Linked DNA regions of Homo sapiens: region 2 is linked to region 1. Evidence: fine-mapped expression QTL. Tissue or cell type: whole blood. Region 1 holds a variant in brackets; the other region holds the start of a gene. All regions are shown on one strand. Distances are between the middles of the regions.

Region 1 (2,758 bases):
ACTATCATAATAAGAGAAATAGAAATTACATGTACAGCACTTAACTCTGCACAGAAAGCTTTCAATAAACAGCAATTAGTATTATTCTTGTTCACTGTATTAGACCTAATTTTAAAACATGGTAATTACTTTAGTCTTCCAAATGCATAATAATTTGGCAGCCATTTAAACAAAAAGATGATCACACAAATAAATACAGACTTATCCACAAAGAGCAGTTATTAAGAAATTTATTTGCTAGGTGCAGTGGTTCACACCTGTAACCCAGCACTCTGGGAGGCCAAGGTGGGTGGAACACTGGAGGTCAGGAGTTCGAGATCAGCCTGGACAACATGGTAAAACCCTGTCACTACCAAAAATACAAAAACTAGCCAGGTATGGTGGCACGTGCCTGTAATCCCAGCTACTAGGGAGGCTGAGGCACGAGAATTGCTTGAACCTGGGAGGCGAAGGTTGCAGTGAGCAAACTTGGCGCCACTGCACTCCAGGCTGGAAGACAGAGCAAGATTATGTCAGAAAGAAAAGAAAAGAAGGGAAGGGAAGGGAAGGGGAGGGGAGGGGAGGGGAGGGGAGGGGAGGGGAGGGGAGGGGAGGGGAGGGGAGGGGAGGGGAGGGGAGGGGAGGGGAGGGGAGGGGAGGGGAGGGGAGGGGAGGGGAGGGGAGGGGAGGGGAGGGGAGGGGAGGGGAGGGGAGGGGAGGGGAGGGGAGGGAAGAGAAGAGAAGAGAAGAGAAGAGAAATTAATTTATTTAATAGGCCAGGCACAGTGACTCATGCCTGCAATCCCAGCACTTTGGGAGGCCGAGGGGGGTGGATCACTGAAGGTCAAGAGTTCGAGATCAGTCTGGCCACCATGGTGAAATCCCATCTCTACTAAAAATACAAAAATTAGCCAGGTGTGGCGGCACACACCTGTAATCCCAGCTACTCAGGAGGCTGAGGCAGAAGAATCACTTGAACCCAGGAGGCAGAGGTTGCAGCGAGCCAAGAGCTCACTGCACTCCAGCCTGGGCAATAGAACTAGACTCCATCTCAAAAAAAACAAACAAAAAAAGAAATTTGGCCAGGCGTGGTGGCTCAGGCCTACAATCACAGCACTTTGGGAGGCCGAGACGGGTGGATCACCTGAGGTCAGGAGTTCGAGACCAGCCTGGCCAATGTGGTGAAACCCCGTCTCTACTAAAAAGACAAAAATTAGCCAGGCGTGGTGGTGGGGGCCTGTAATCCCAGCTACTTGGGAGGCTGAGGCAGGAGAATCGCTTGAACCCTGGAGGCAGAGGTTGCAGTGAGCCAAGATTGCACCATTGCACTCCAGCCTGGGCAACAAAAGCAAAATTCCGTCTCAAAACAAATTTATTTTAACAGATCACTCATTCTGTCAACAAATTATTTACTGAATTTCCTTATATATATGGTACAAGAACTGTATCTGTTGCCAAGAAAATCATTTAATAGTGTCCAAATAACGGGGGGAATTTCAAGACCTGTTTTTTTTTTCTGTAATTGTGTGGAATC[T/TA]AAAAAAAAAAAAAAAATTAAACATACACCCTCTGAGTAAGACTGATGTCAAGCAAAAAATTCTTGTTTGGATCATTTAATATATTCATATATGAGCAGGGTGTTTTGTCTCAAATGACAGCTTTTATCTGACAATGCGTATCGAAGCCTAAGTGCTGATTTTATTTGCTCCAGAAAAACTCCATTACTAGGAATTTTTTCCAAGGATAAACTTATGTAAAGGATGTTAATCAATCTCATTTAAAACACCAAAATACTGATACAAATGAAATATCAAATATAATAGACTAGTCAAAATAAAGTATCGTTTGGTGGATTTAAATGTACCTAGTAAAAATGTCATTTAAAAGAACACTAAATAACACAGTAAAGTATGAAATCAGAATGTAAAACCACGTGGACACAATAATGACAATTTTGTAAAATATTAAATAATAAGGCTAAAATAACAGATACCAAACATAATAGCATTGGTTTTCTGACATAAGGATTTAGGGTAATTTTTTTTTTCAAGTTTTCTAGTTTACCACAGTTTCTATCAATAAAGAGGTGTTATTGGCCAGGCACGGTGGTCACGCCTGTAATCCCAGCACTTTGGGAGGCCGAGGCGGGTGGATCACGAGGTCAGGAGTTTGAGACAAGCCTGACCAACATGGTGAAACCCCATTTCTACTAAAAATACAAAAATTAGCTGGGCATGGTGTAGCGTGCCTGTAATCCCAGCTACTCAGGAGGCTAAGGCAGGAGAACTGCTTGAATCCGGGATGCGGAGATTGCAGTGAGCTGAGATTGCACCACGGCATTCCAGCCTGGGCGACAGAGCTAGACTCCATCTCAAAAAAAAAAAAAAGGTGTTATTCTAGCAATCAAGGAGGAAATGACCTGTTTAAAAAAATAAAAGATGTAGTTTTGCAGTTTACCGTCCTTTCTCAACTCAAATAAAAAGCTAATGCAGATATGATAGTTTAAGATTTACATCCAATCCAATCCAATAGGTACTACAAATAAGCAGTCTAAAAATCTAGTACCCCTGCTTTAGTGTCAAGCCCCTTGCAAAACCCTGAAATGATCTGAAAGTGGTGCTTAGCAAGCAACTACAGTATGGCAGAACAAAATTTTACTGTAACTTTGAAGATCCACTTTGCCACTTGCAGCTAAGCAATTTCCCTATAGGTGAACTGGTTAGTATCGTTACCCCACCTAGGTACAATAGTGTCTAATATATAAAAGACATTCCGTAAGAGT
Region 2 (2,758 bases), 64 kb before region 1:
CACACGCCCACCAGAGGTCTTTCACACACACACCCTCACCCACTGCAGCCACACACGGCCATAGCCAACAGTGGCCCAGCCAGGCACAGGCACACATCATGCACAATGGGTCACCCTCCCACGACCACGGACGGGAGGGCACGCTGGCATCCACCCATGTGGCAGACACATCCTTCACCTGCACACGCCCCACAGGTCCCCGCACCCCTCACTGAGTTGGCCACACACGCCCACACACGCCCACACACAGGGTTACCCTCACTCCCCCCTCAGGTCACCTTCACCAAGTCACCCTCCACCTCCACCTCCCCTTCCCGGGCCCACTGCCCTGGCCGGCTGCCGCGACCCTGGGAAGAACCAAATGCACACCCTCCCCTCGGAAGGGGAACCGATCCGATTCCCAAAAAGTGGCCATGGTCTGGGCACACCCACGAGGCAAAAGCCAGGCTCACTCCCACCCCAAGACACACCCAGCCGGGACGGCGACCCCCAGCCCGCCGCCGGGTCCTTCTCGCGCCTCCCAGGCCAGCGCAGGGGTCCCGCTTCGTCCCCGGGGAGACAGTTCCCGGAGCCACTGGGAGGTGGGGGAACAGGGCTGAGGACCCGCGATCGGGTTCCCTCCCGGGATTCCCTCTGGGGAGGGGTCCCAAAAGGAAGGAGAGATGCGCCCCCCGAAGATGACCAGCGGCGGGGGCGGCCTCTCCCCGCGGATGCCAGCTAGGGGGAGATTCCGGAGGGGGGGGAGCAGGGTGCAGAAAGGGGCGCTCGGGGGAGGGTCGAGGGGTGGCAGGGACCGCGGCCCCGGGGGAAGCAGCCGGGGGGGAGGGAGCGGGGTCCCGGAGGGGGGGTCGCGGGCGGGGACCGGCACCCCGCGCGGGGGGCGGCCCCGGGGAGCCGTGGCGGGGATCCGGGCGCGTGTCACTCACCCCCGCGGCGCGCCCCGCCAGCAGCAGCAGCAGCAGCGGTGGCAGGAGCAGCCCGCGGGCCCCGGGCCCGGCCGCGGCCCCGGCCCCGGCGCCGGCCCCGTGGGCGGCCCCGGCACGGTGCGGCGGCCCCGGCTTCATGGCGGCGGCGCGGGCGCGGGCGGCGGGCGGCGGGCGGGCGCCTTTGTTCCCGAGGCGCGGCGCGCGGGGCGGCTGCTTGGCGGCGGCGCGGCCCGGCGGCTGGACCGACGCGCTCTAGGCTCGCGGGCTCCCGGCTCGGCCGCCCGGCTCCGCCTCGCAGCTCCGCGCCCACAGCGGCCGCGCCCGCAGGAAGCGTGCGCCGCCGCCGCCGCCGCCGGGCCGCCCCCAGCGCGGGCGGAACGGAGGAGGGGCCCGGGGCGGGGCGGGCCCCAGTGCGCCCCCCGCGGGGCTCCGCGCCCTCTGACCCCAGTCCCAGCCCCCGCCCCCACCCAGAGGGAGCCCCGCGCTGCCGAGTGGGCACCCGGACACCTGAGTGAGCAGCCGGCCTCGCCGATCCCGGGGCTGGAGGTCGCGGAGCCCGCCGGACGCACCTCCGCGGCCGCCGTGCTAGGTAGAAGGGAAGGGTCCCGCGTGGGATACCAGGGCCCGGGCCTGGCTCCCTGAAGTCGCCGAGCGGAGGGGTCGCATGGGCGTTTTCATCTACAGCCTCCCCCTGTGGCTCCACGCACGTGTCTCTTCCTGGACTCCCATCGTCACCCTCACACACTCAGCCAGTCCACCCAGTGGGCCAGAGGTCATCCAAGACCACGGGCTTTCATGCCTCCAGGACACCCAGGGGCTGTGTGACCTCAGATCAGGGCCCGGCCCTCTCTGGGCCTCGGTCTCCCCAGGGGACCATGGGGGTGGTCACTTCTGGGCCCTGTCACTGTGGATCTGCAGAGGAAAAGCCACGCAGACCTGAGCGCAGCTGCTTCCACACCAGCTGTGCGCCTCCAGCAAGGCCCCCAGTTCTCTGAGACTCAGACCCCCCATGGTTGAATGGGACCACCCCCTCCAGTGCAGGATGGCGAGAAAAGTACATCTCTGAGTGGCAGTCTCTAGCGCTGGTGGTCTTTCTACCCTGTGTGGTCACGGTGCCTTTTCCCCCTTCACCTTCATCCCCAGCGGCATACCCCATGCTGTTCTTACTTCTCCAAGTCTCCAATGGCGTGTTAGCTCCAGCGGGGGCAGGGTTTTGTGTCTGTCTTGTTCACTGCTATGTCCCCAGCACCAGCACAGAGCTCGGCATGACATCGATGCTCAATCCAAATTTGCTGAATCAATGAATGTGTTTCCCATTTACTGGGGCTCAAAACCAAGTGTTTTGGGGCAAGATAGGGGAGAGTGAAACATTTCTGGAACCCTGACCACATGCCAGGTGCCCAGCGCTTTCATGTGTTATATCATTTCTCAGGAACCCCATAAGGTCGGTCTGTCAATATCTTCACTTCTTAGGTGGGGAAGCTGAGAGCCAGCAAGAAGAGGTTATTTGCTGATGACAGCTGGCTGGACGTCTCTACCCTCAGTTACTCTCCTCTCTGGCCCCTGTGTCCCAGCACCCAGCTTAGAGCCTGCCATTAGAAAATAGGAATGAAATCAGGCCGGTCGTGGTGGCTCACGCCTGTAATCCCACCACGTTGGGAGGCCGAGGCGGGTGGATCACGAGGTCAGGAGATCCTGGCCAACATGGTGAAACCCCGTCTCTACTAACAATACAAAAAAATTAGCCGGGCGTGGTGGCGGGCGCCTGTAGTCCCAGCTACCAGGAGGGTGAGGCAGGAGAATGGCATGAACCCGGGAGGCGGAGCTTGCAG

Evidence for each region. PIP is the estimated chance that this variant, and not a neighbour inherited with it, causes the effect.
Region 2: SDC3 starts here. The variant in region 1 is fine-mapped to the expression of SDC3 in whole blood (INTERVAL, PIP above 0.99).

Annotation. Positions count from the first base shown.
Region 1 is chr1:30,971,739-30,974,496 of GRCh38, forward strand. All of the region lies in intron 10 of PUM1 (pumilio RNA binding family member 1), which reads right to left. Among named protein-coding and RNA genes, the nearest start is that of SNORD103C, 4.9 kb to the left of the region's middle. The variant T/TA (reference allele first, on the strand shown) is at 1,514.
Region 2 is chr1:30,907,523-30,910,280 of GRCh38, forward strand. SDC3 (syndecan 3) reads right to left here and starts at 1,236. Exons shown (of 5, transcript NM_014654.4): 1 at 927-1,236. The coding sequence starts at 1,064. RefSeq lists a silencer at 1,191-1,280.